4 separate regions of the Homo sapiens genome follow, and all the other regions are linked to region 1. The links come from fine-mapping of genetic effects on gene expression. A gene starts in region 1. Each other region holds a variant in brackets. All regions are shown on one strand. Distances are from middle to middle.

Evidence for each region. PIP is the estimated chance that this variant, and not a neighbour inherited with it, causes the effect. A credible set is the group of variants that fine-mapping cannot tell apart.
Region 2: its variant is the best candidate, but not a certain one, in a credible set for the expression of ZCCHC17 in whole blood (INTERVAL, PIP 0.64).
Region 3: its variant is the best candidate, but not a certain one, in a credible set for the expression of ZCCHC17 in whole blood (INTERVAL, PIP 0.68).
Region 4: its variant is the best candidate, but not a certain one, in a credible set for the expression of ZCCHC17 in fibroblasts (GTEx, PIP 0.55).

The regions. Positions count from the first base shown.
Region 1 is chr1:31,295,821-31,298,504 of GRCh38, forward strand. ZCCHC17 (zinc finger CCHC-type containing 17) reads left to right here and starts at 1,212. Exons shown (of 8, transcript NM_016505.4): 1 at 1,212-1,255. SNRNP40 (small nuclear ribonucleoprotein U5 subunit 40) reads right to left here and starts at 968. Exons shown (of 10, transcript NM_004814.3): 1 at 791-968. The coding sequence starts at 931. RefSeq lists an enhancer at 737-946.
Region 2 is chr1:31,237,492-31,240,175 of GRCh38, forward strand. NKAIN1 (sodium/potassium transporting ATPase interacting 1) reads right to left here and starts at 2,396. Exons shown (of 7, transcript NM_024522.3): 1 at 2,003-2,396. The coding sequence starts at 2,056. The variant G/A (reference allele first, on the strand shown) is at 1,275.
Region 3 is chr1:31,319,160-31,321,843 of GRCh38, forward strand. ZCCHC17 (zinc finger CCHC-type containing 17) reads left to right here. Exons shown (of 8, transcript NM_016505.4): 3 at 1-7. Among named protein-coding and RNA genes, the nearest start is that of ZCCHC17, 23 kb to the left of the region's middle. The variant C/T (reference allele first, on the strand shown) is at 1,250.
Region 4 is chr1:31,233,450-31,236,133 of GRCh38, forward strand. All of the region lies in intron 1 of NKAIN1 (sodium/potassium transporting ATPase interacting 1), which reads right to left. Among named protein-coding and RNA genes, the nearest start is that of NKAIN1, 5.1 kb to the right of the region's middle. The variant CTAT/C (reference allele first, on the strand shown) is at 1,233.

The DNA of each region.
Region 1 (2,684 bases):
AGGCCATGAGGCAATGATGGAGATGGTAGAAGTAGCAATTCTAGACCTATTTTGAGGACGGTGCCAGCAGGATTTATTGAGGAGATGTGAGGACACTCGTATTTCCTCGTCTGAGCCTAAACAGGACATTAGAAGTGTGATCACTATTTCTATCTTACAAAAAATGTAGTTAGGAGCATGGTTTCTCAGTTCGAAATCTGCTTCTATCACGTACTTGGTAAGTCTGTTTTTCCATCTGCAAAATGGGTTAATAACGTTCCTAACAGGCTGCTACCAAGATCAATGGAAATTTCATATACGAAACACTTTAGTACAAGAGTCAATGAATGTTAGCTGCTATTTAGTTGTTAATAATACTAGTGCAGAGAAATAAAGGGAAAAGCAACTTGCCCAAAGTCCCAAAACGAGCCAACACAAATCATTTCCCTTTTTTCTTCCCTCCCTCATTCATTCATTCTACACACTCTTCGGAATTTTTGTTCTATGCCAGATCCATGTTAGAGTCAGGATGCTTAAACCCGGGTCAGGGTTTTGAGCCCAAGGTCCTCAACTCTAATTCTAATGCTATCTCAGGGCAGTCGAGAGGCTGAAAACGGGCGCCAAACGGGGGAACACGTACGCAGCATTCGCAGGCTATGGGGAGCTTTTACAGTGTTTATGTGCTTTAACTCTGCGTAGAAACTCTCGTTCTGCCCCCGCAATGCGGGAAAGGGTCAGGGATCACCAGATACAGCGCTCTGAGGGGAGGAAGATGAGCTGAGGGCCAAAGGCCGCCTGCTTCTTCACTTACCGCTTGCAGCAAGGCTCCCGGCGTCGCCTGCTGCTGCCCGGCTCCTGGGCCAGACCCCGCTCCCAACAGCAACTCATGCCGCTGCCGCTTGACTGGAACCAGCGGCAACTCTGGGCCCTTACGCTTCTGCTGTTCTATCATGGCGGCAACCGGTCTCTTCAGCGCCGCCACTGACCGCGCTGCCGCTCTCAGGCGCCACGCAATTGGTTCCAAATTAGTCCTTCCTCCACAACTTCCAGCTTGGAAGAACCAATCGGCTTTCAATATTTCCATTTGCACCGCCCTCGGATAGTCTCTTGTTATTGGGCATATCTTTCTGACGTCATGAGAGTGCGATACCAGGATTGGTGGACGGAGCTGGCGACCGCCCTAGGCGCGCTGGGTCTTGTGGGTGGAAACGCGCTGGCTGACTGGGGTCGGCGTTTAGTTCAGCGCAGCGACTCGGGGACCTGGAGCTGACGCCTAGTACGTATGAGGAAGAACGGGGTGGGTGGCTGCCTGAGTCTGGAGGCGACGCCTCGGTTGTGCAGTCTGAACCTGCCCTTCTCAGCTGAGGGTGCTGACAGCAAGGGGTGGGAGGCGGGCCCCGAGTCCCCAGCTGTGGTAAGTAGTAGCCTGGGCTCCCTTTCGGGGCAGGAGCGGAGCCTTGGGGTCTCTGGCGGCAAGACCCAGCCCCTGCGGCTCCCTTCTTCAAGAGCGCCCATCGTGGCCAGTCCTGTGCCGGGCATTCCCAGGGAGAAAGGCCTGCGTCCCAGCCTCCTCCGGTGCCCCATTTGGCCGAGGAGGCTGACTTGTTTCTGCCACTGATTTTGCAGTTTTTGATCAGGGCCTACTGTATGCCCCCCTGAGAGAGACAGTGATGAAGGAAATGTCCGACTCCTTCTCCAGAGCACAGTCTTGTTGAGAAATTTGAGACTCATGCCCATGAACGTGGTCATTGCCTCAGTCGTCCTGCTGATATTCATTTAGCAGCGCGTTGGGGGTATGTTGTGAACCGGGCACGGTCCCTACTCTCAGGGCGTTTAACTCTGGTGGGGAAAACGTTAAACAATGACCTCACTAATACATGGAAATGCCTCCTACTGCTGCCTGATGCTATGAGTGCCTGAAATAAGCAGGAAGGTTTTTCAGAGGAAAAGATGCCTGCGCTGGTAGCTGCAGGAAGTGTTGTAATTAATTAGGTGAAGAAGTGAAGGCAGAACCTTCCATAGAGAACTACTTGTTCAGAGCCCTGAGGCACTTGGGAGGAAAATGACTAAAAGCACAAAGAGCCAGTGTGGCTGGTACAAAGAGAATGAAGGGAGTATGGTACAAGATGAAGCTGTACGTGATAGCGGTCAGACCTTGCAGGAATTTGTAGCTTTTATTTTAAAACGGATGAGATACCACTGAGCCGTCTTCCCCCAGTGGGGTGTGGTGGAGGAGGGGACTTGATCCCTCAGGCTCAGTGGTGTGAACAGACGGGGGTTGGGGAAGCCCTAGTCGATGTATGTGGACCACTTGGGATATGCAGTAATCCTGGTCAGAGATGTCAGTGAGGACTGAGATATGGGTGGAACTGCAGAGAATTGGACAGATTCTAGAGGTATATAGGAGGTAAAATGGGTGGGACTTGGTGATGGGTTGATTTTAGGGAGTGAAGAGAGGAATCAAAGGTAACTCCTAGGTTTCTGGCTTATGTAGTTGAATAGATGGTGGTACCATTCACTCACTATCACGGAATCCCTCAAGCTGGATAGGGAACACTAGAAGATGATTAGAGACCAGTTTTTTTTTGTTTTTTTTTTTTTTTTGAGACAGGTTCTTGCTCTGTCGCCCAGGCTGGAGTGTGGTGGTGCAACCTTGGCTCACTGCAACCTCCACCTCCCAGGTTCAAGCAATTCTCCTGCCTTAG
Region 2 (2,684 bases), 58 kb before region 1:
GAGAAGAAAACTTTTTTTTTTTTTTTGAGACACAGTTTCACTCTGTCGTCCAGGCTGGAGTGCAGCGGCGTGATCTCATCTCACTGTAACCTCCGCCTCCTGGGTTCAAGTGATTCTCATGTCTCAGCCTCTCGAGTAGCTGGGATTACAGATGCGTGCCACCACCCCTAATTTTTGTATTTTCAGCAGTGATGGGGTTTCTTCATGTTGGCCAGGCTGGTCTCGAACCCCTGACCTCAGGTGATCTGCCCATCTCGCCCTCCCAAAGTGCTGGGGTTACAGGCATAAGCCACGATGCCTGGCCTAGAAAACTTACTTTTTATTTATCTGTCCTGTTTGATTATGTATGTATTTATTTTTTACAATATATGTATATTACTTTTCTAATTAAAAAAAACCCCTAGTTTAAAATTAAAAAATTAACAAACACAGAAGAATCCTCTGAAAGGTTTAAACATTTCTTGGCATTTCATGTTCCTCAAAGTAGATAAAGAAAAACAGACAATCTCTGCCCTTCTGGAGTTCCCATTCCACCTGATCTTAATTAATTCCCTCTGCAATCCTCAGGGATAATCATTTTACAGATAAGAAGACTGAGGCCGGCCAGTGGGGGGAAGTCACTTGTCCAGTCTCCCACAGCTGGGAGCAGGGCTACAATCTCCAGAGCTAGGGCTGTTTCCACCACTGCCCAGGCCAGGTCTGTGGATGGCATGTTTGAAGCTGGTGTCCCCAGGAGGAGAGAAGCAAGACGAATGAGGAGGTCTGCATGTCCAGGCTCAAAACTTCACTCTACATTATCATTGGCTCCTGTGGTGGGGAGGGCGTGATGGATGCAGGCAAGAGTGGAAACCCAGAACAAGGAGTCCAGCATGAGGGGGGCTCAGGCTCCTCGCTGCCCACTCTCAGACCTGGGTTCGGCGATGGAGGTCCCCATGCACCTCTGCCTAGAGGAGAAGCACAGCTTCAACCTCCCTAGTTGTTCAATCTCAGCTCTAGGGTAGGTAGGAGACCCCTGCCTCTCCTTAACCACCCTCCCAAATTCCCCTGCCAGGGCCTGATTTGAAGGGCAGTGCTGTTTCTTCTAGTCCACTACAGTCACTCCTCCCTGAGACAAGAACCTGAGTTCCCTATGCTGGGGCTAGGCACAGTGTCCTCAGATGCTCTGGTCCTCCCTAGGGCACCCAAGTGTCCCCATCCCCACTGTTGCTGGCCCCGGCAGAGGAGCTGCTCTGGTGGGTGGAACTGATGACTGATGGAACCCCCATGGCCACAGC[G/A]GCCAGACCAAAGCAGGAAGTGTGGTCCAGGCTGGGTCAGGCTGGCCCAGGATCTGGCAGCTCCTGGTGACCCTCTCCAGGGAGGTGGCTCTCCTTTCCCAGGACTGCCCGGTCAGGAAGGTGAAGGGAGGCAGAAACAACACAAAGGATTGGAGGGTTCTTGGAGTCTAAGATCCCAGAACACAGATGAACATGGGCCAGAAATGGTCAGCGATTTAGAGACACACCAAAGAGAAACCCTGAGAGACACACGCCGGAGCAGAGACTTTGTGAGAAACGCTCACACAGGGGTGGTGATCAGAGGCAGAGACCCAGAGGAAGGGAGAGACCCATGCAAACGAGGGATCTAGAGGGAAACACACAGCAGGACCTCAACGGATCCACAGATCAGCCTCAGACACACCCCCAGTCCCAGCAAGCCACCGTCCCACAGCGCATCCCCCAACAGGAGGCCACTTGTACAGTGCGGGCGGGCCGGGGACTCGCGCACAGGACGCACTTGGGGACCGGAGGAGCGCCGGGCACAGCAGCGAGAAGCGCACACAAAGAGACAGCCCGGCCAGCGGGAGCAGGCTCCGCCCGACCGCTCCGAGACTCCAGACCACCCCCCGCCCGGGCACACGCACCAGACACACACACAGAGACACACGCAACCCCACCCGCACGCCCTGGGACCGCGCCCCGCCGCGCCCCACCCTGCCCCGACTGCCTGGGCACGCGACGCTTACCAGCTGCAGGCAGCAGAAGGCGACCAGCGTGCAGCGCCCGCTGCACTTGCCCATGGCTCCGGGGGCTGCGCGGGCCGCACGCCGCGGCGCCCTTCTTGCTCCGCGGCCGCCGCCTGCTCGCGCCGCGCGGGCTCCACGTCCTCCCCGCTGGGCGCGCCGGGCGGCGGGGCCGGGCGCCTAGGGCCGGGCCCGGGAGTGTCCGGTCCCCAAGGCTGGGGCCGGCCGCCCGCGCTCCGAGTCCATGGTCCGTCCGTCCGCGCGCTGGCCCCGCCGAGCCGCGCCTCCTTTGTCTAGCGGGCCGTCCGTCAGGCGCGCCTCCTGCCCCGGGGCGGCTGGCGGGGAGCGCGGAGCAAGGAGAGCGAGCCCCGAGCGCGGCGCAGCGCAGAGCAGCACTGCCCAGCTGGGGCAGTCGCCCGGGCTCTCGTCGGCCGCGGCTTCCCGGCCCCACCACGTGGCTCCGCCGCCGCCACCGACAGGGAGGGAGTTGGGGGGAACGGCAGAGGGGTGGGGCGGGGGAGCCGCCGGAGGGGAGGGGAGAGGGATAGGGAGGTGGAGGGTTGGAGAGGCAGGGAGTGAAGTGGAAGAGTGCGTGCGGGCTTAGGGGACAACAGCCCTGAGTCAAATCCAGACTTTGCTGCTCACTCGCTGTGTGACCTTGGGCAAATCACGTCACCTCTCTGGA
Region 3 (2,684 bases), 23 kb after region 1:
AAGCAAGGTAGGAGTTTATAACTTGAAATTCAGCCCTCTGATTCTACTCTCTGCTAACACTCCACCACCTCCTAATTATAGGCTGTACATTTTTCAGACAGTAGTTTTTCATTCCTTTGTTTTCTTTTTAATGTATAGATATGAATACAAGATGACAGTTCATTTTTAGCGGGCAGAGAATTGTGGTCTCTGACTCAGGAGGAAGACTGGGGTATAGCTAACTGGGTTTACTTCTGAAACCAGCTCCTCCTTAGACTTCACCTGTGACCCTAGGCAAATCACTTGACTTCTTTAGACACAGGATTTGCGGGAGGGCAAGCTACCTCTGTCTGAGGCTGACAGTGTGAGTTTTCTAGTAGATAGCGCATGAAATGGGAATAGTATTGCAAGTGATACAAACATATATAATATATATAATGTTTTAAGTTTTTTTCATAAAGAGGCGTCTGTTGAACATTTTTTTGAGAATCCTGTTATAAATCTATAATCTTATTTATTTACCAAAACTATGTTAAGCCGAAAAGGCAGGTTCCACAGACCGGTTGTCTGCCCAGAGTGATTTGGCTAGGTAGTGGCATAGCCAAGACTAGAACCCAATCCTTCTGATTCCTAGCCCCTGGATCTTTCTACTATATCACACTGCTGGTGGATCCAAAGATTCAACTTGCTAACTTCTTATGCTAAAATAAGGTTTAATTAAAGATTTTAACATTTTAAAAAAAGGCAACCATAAGAATACTAGAAGAAAATCTAGAAGAATATTTCACTACATGAAAATTAAAAACTTCACTGCAAAAATCATTGTAATCAGAGTTAAGTTTGGAAAAAGAATTTGTAGTACATATGATAAAGAGCTAATACAAAGGGGGTATTAGGAAAAGGTGCCAAGGATATGAAAAACAACTCACAGGATAAAAAAATATTACTTGGTACTATAGTAAAAGATACTCATTCTCCGTATGACTAAAAAGTAACTTAGACTGGTAGATTCATATAATGGGATATTACTCAACAATACAAAGGAATGAGAATAAAATATTCATACATGCAACAACCTGGATCATCCCTCTCCAGAAATTATACTGAGTGAAAAAAGCTAATCTCAAAAGGTTATACACTTTATGATTCCATTTATATAACATTCTTATGTTTTACTTGAGATATGATTCACATACCACACATTTCACCTGCTTAAAGTGTACAATTCAGTGGTTTCTTTGGTATATTCAGAGTTTTGTGACCATCACCA[C/T]GATCTACTTTGAGAACATTGTTGTCACCCCAAAAAGAAACCCTGTACCTATTAGCCATCACTCCAGATTCTCTCTATGCCCCCAGCTTTAGGCAATCATTATTCTACTTTGTCTCTGTATATTTGCTTATTTTGTACATTTCTTGTAAATGGAATAATGCAGTATATAGTCTTTTGTGACTGACTTCTTTCACTTAGCACGTTTTCAAGGTTCATCTGTTTTATAATATGTACTTAATTCTTTTTTATTGCCATTACAAATTTATTGCAGTTCCATCAGTTGATGGATATTTGGGTTGTTTCCACTTCTTTAGTATTATGAATAATGTTGCTATAAATATTTGTGTACAACTTTTTGTGTGGATATTTGCTTTCATTGGGTATATACCTGTGAGTGGAAATACTGGGTCATATGATAACTCCATGTTCAACTTTTTGAGAAACTGCCAAACTGTTTTTCCAAAGTGACCACGCCATTTTACATTCCTACCAGCAATGTATGAGGGTTCTATTTTCTTTACATCTTTGTTAACACTTGTTATTATCTTTCTGGGTATGGCCATCCTAATGGATGTGCACGGACATCTCATTGTGGTTTGAATTTCCCTAATAGCTAATGATGTTAAGTCTCTTTTCTTGGGTTTATTGGCCATTTGTATATCTTTTTTGGGGAAATGTCTATTCAAATCTGATATATTTTGGCTGTGTCCTCACCCAAATCTCATCTTGAATTGTAGTTCTCGTAATCCCCATGTGCTGTGGTAGGGACCAGGTGGAGATAATTGAATCATGGGGGTGGTTTGCCCCATCCTGTTCTCATCATAGTAACACAAGATCTGATGGTTTTATAAGGGGCTTCCCTTATAAAACCATCATTCGCTGGGCACTTATTCTCCTTCCTGCTGCCCTGTGAAGAAGGATGTGTTTGCTTCCCCTTTCCCCATGGTTGTTAAGTTTCTTGAGGCTTCCCCAGCCATGCTGAACTGTGAGTCAGTTAAATCTCTTTCCTTGGTAAATTACCCAGTCTCGTATGTCTTTATTAGCAGTGTAAGAACAGACTAATACAAAATCCTTTTCTTTTTTTGAGACAGAGTCTTGCTCTATTGCCCAGGCTAGAGTGCAATGGTGCAATCTTGGCTCACTGCAACCTCTGCCTCCTGAGTTCAAGTGATTTTCATGCCTCAGCTTCCTGAGTAGCTGGGATTACAGGCATGTGCCACCACACCCGGCTAATTTTTAGTAGAGGCAGGGTTTTGCCATGTTGGCCAGACTGGTCTTGAACTCCTGTCCTCCAGTAATCTGCCCTCCTCAGCCTCCCAGAGTGCTGGGATTAAAGGTGTGAGCCACCACACCTGCCTTTTCCCTTTTAAAAATAGGGTTATTTTTGTTTTTATTGTTGAGTTAGGTGTTTCTCATATATTCTGGATACTAGTCT
Region 4 (2,684 bases), 62 kb before region 1:
GGAGTCCCAGATCTGAGTTTGAATACTCATTCTGCACCTATCATTTATGTGGCCATGGATAAGCCACACAGTAGCAAGAGACATATATAAAATGCCTAGTACAATGCCTGGCTCATAGCAGACACCAAACAAAAAGAAATTCTCATTATGTTAATTTCCCACTCAGCCCCATATTTTCCACATAAAGAAGAGCTGGAGTGTTTGTGGGAATGACCCTGATCACGAAATCCTCTAATACAGGCAGAGATGGGGCTGACGTGACTTGTCCAAGTCTCAAGGCAAATCATAGCTAGCCCTGGAGAGCACTTTCCTAGGCCAGGGACCGTACTTGGCTATCCCGGCATCAACTTGCGAATTCCCCAAACTGCCATGGGCTCGTTCGTGGGGTAGAAGCTGTTTTTCTGACTACTTTGTAAGTAAGAAGGCAGAGGCTCAGAGAGGGTGCAGGACTTCCTGGGAGTCACAAAGCAAGGCCTGATCCCAGATGTAGTGCTCCTAGCCCCTGTGCCAGATCTCAGCGAAGCTGCCATTTATGGGCTGCTTATTTAAAAACCATCCACTCACCTACCCTTATAAAGGAGGAGAACCAGGGCCATCCCCAGGTCCCCTGGAGGCCTTCTTCTCCATTCTACCCTGCTCCGCCCATCTCATAAGGGCCTCGAGGGCAGTTTGGCTTCAGTCTGTTCATTCACAAAAGGGAGTTGATCATCCCTGCCAACTCTGTCCAAAGGGGTATGAGGAACAAAAGGGGCCAGTGGCCTGCATAATTTCACGCTCCTGACTCTGATACCCGGCCCAAGGACCTCAAGCACCCGAAGCAGAACCAGACCCTCCCGAGGAAGCCGTGAGCTTGCAGCTGCAGCTGCTCCAGAGTGCAGGCCCCTGCTGGAGCCCATCTCCCTTTGGTCTTCGCCGTCACTATTGCTAATAACGACATCAATCAGGTTGACCATGTTTCACACCATTACTCGCAGCTCAGCTGGAAGCTACATCCCGCCCCCCGCCCCCACCTTCCAGAAAGCAAAGAGCTTTCTAGAAGGGAAAAGAATGAAACCAACATTTTTCTGAATACCTACTATGTGTCTGGCACCTGGCCAAGGAAGCCCTTTCTACAACTCTGTGGGCTAGAGATGACTCTTCCTCTTTTACAAAGGAAGAAACTGTGGCCAGAGGAGTGAATGCGTGTGTCCAAGGTCACACAGAGCTGGGACAGAAACAACCATGGCAGTGAT[CTAT/C]TATTGGGCACTCACTGGCTCACAGTGCAGGCACTACACATGAGGCTATCGAAATATGATCATCTTCATTTTCAGATGAGGAAACGCAGGCTTGGACCTGTCTGGGGTCAAGCACTGGTTAAACGCGAGCAGTAGAGTAGCACGGGGCTGAGAGGGTGGCTCTCTGTTCAGACAGAAGAGTCCTCGCATCTTGGTTCTGTCACTGACTAGCTTAGCGAGCTTGGGCAAACGTCACACCCCTTCGCACCTCAATTTCCTCACCTGAAAAAGGGGATAATAAACACATCTACCCCACTGTGTGGAATTGCAATAAGAAGGATGAAAGCAGTAAAAGAGCTAACGTTTATTGATCATTTAACATGCACCAGGCACTTTGCCAAGCACTTTACATATGTATGCTCATTTGGTTAAATGAGGTAATGCATATAAAGTGCTTAGCACAGGACTCCTGAAATGGGAATGATAATGATGATGATGAAGAAATTGATGGGGATTCCCTAGGGCAAATCTCACTGGTTCATCCCCTTCCAGGAAGAACAGAGTGGCCTGTAAGGTTTCAGGAAGGAGGTGAACAAGGAAGAGCTGGGTTTGGAAAGGAGAGAGAAAAGGCACGGGATTAAAAATTAGAGGGTGAATATGTTAATAATGTTGTCAAAATGATACACCAAAAAGAATTCTGGAAAGCAAGGGACCCAAGATGTTCTACAGAAAGGAACCGGATCAAGATGCAACAAAACTGCCATGCCAAAGCCAGGTGTGGTGACATGCACCTGTTGTCCCAGCTATTTGAGAGGCCGAGGTAGGAGGATCACTTGAGCTCAGGGATTTGAGGCTGCAGCTATTTGAGAGGCTGAGGTGGGAAGGTCACTTGAGCTCAGGAATTTGAGGCTGCAGTGGGTTATGATTGCCACTGCACTCCAGCCTGGGCAACACAGTGAGACGCCTATCTCTAAAAAATAAACAATAAATAAACAAAACATGCCAGTCCAGGCACCACCCTGAGTTCCTGACAAGTACAGCTGGCAGGATCCCAGCGAGCCAGACCAATAATGCCTCCCATTTTACAGATGGAAAAACCAAAGCCTAGAGTGTGGAAGAGACTTGCCCCAAATTGCAGGATGTCAGAAGCAGAGCCAGGCTTAAATCCAGGTCTTTTGCCTCTCAGCTCAGTGCCCAACTACCTGCTACTTCCCACAAAGGACAGTCCACAAAGGACAGTGCAGGGGGTCACCTGGATATGTTTGGGCTACAGTGCCACAGACACATCCCATGATATGAATCATTAAGATAATAACAATAAGCTACAGTTTAATGAGTACTCACTCTGTACCTGCCAGAGTGCTAAATTCATTATATGGACTGAGTCCTCACAACAACCCTAAGGATTAGGAACTGTTTTATATTCTCTCTATTTAACAGATGACAAAACTATGTGGCTCAGAGACGGTA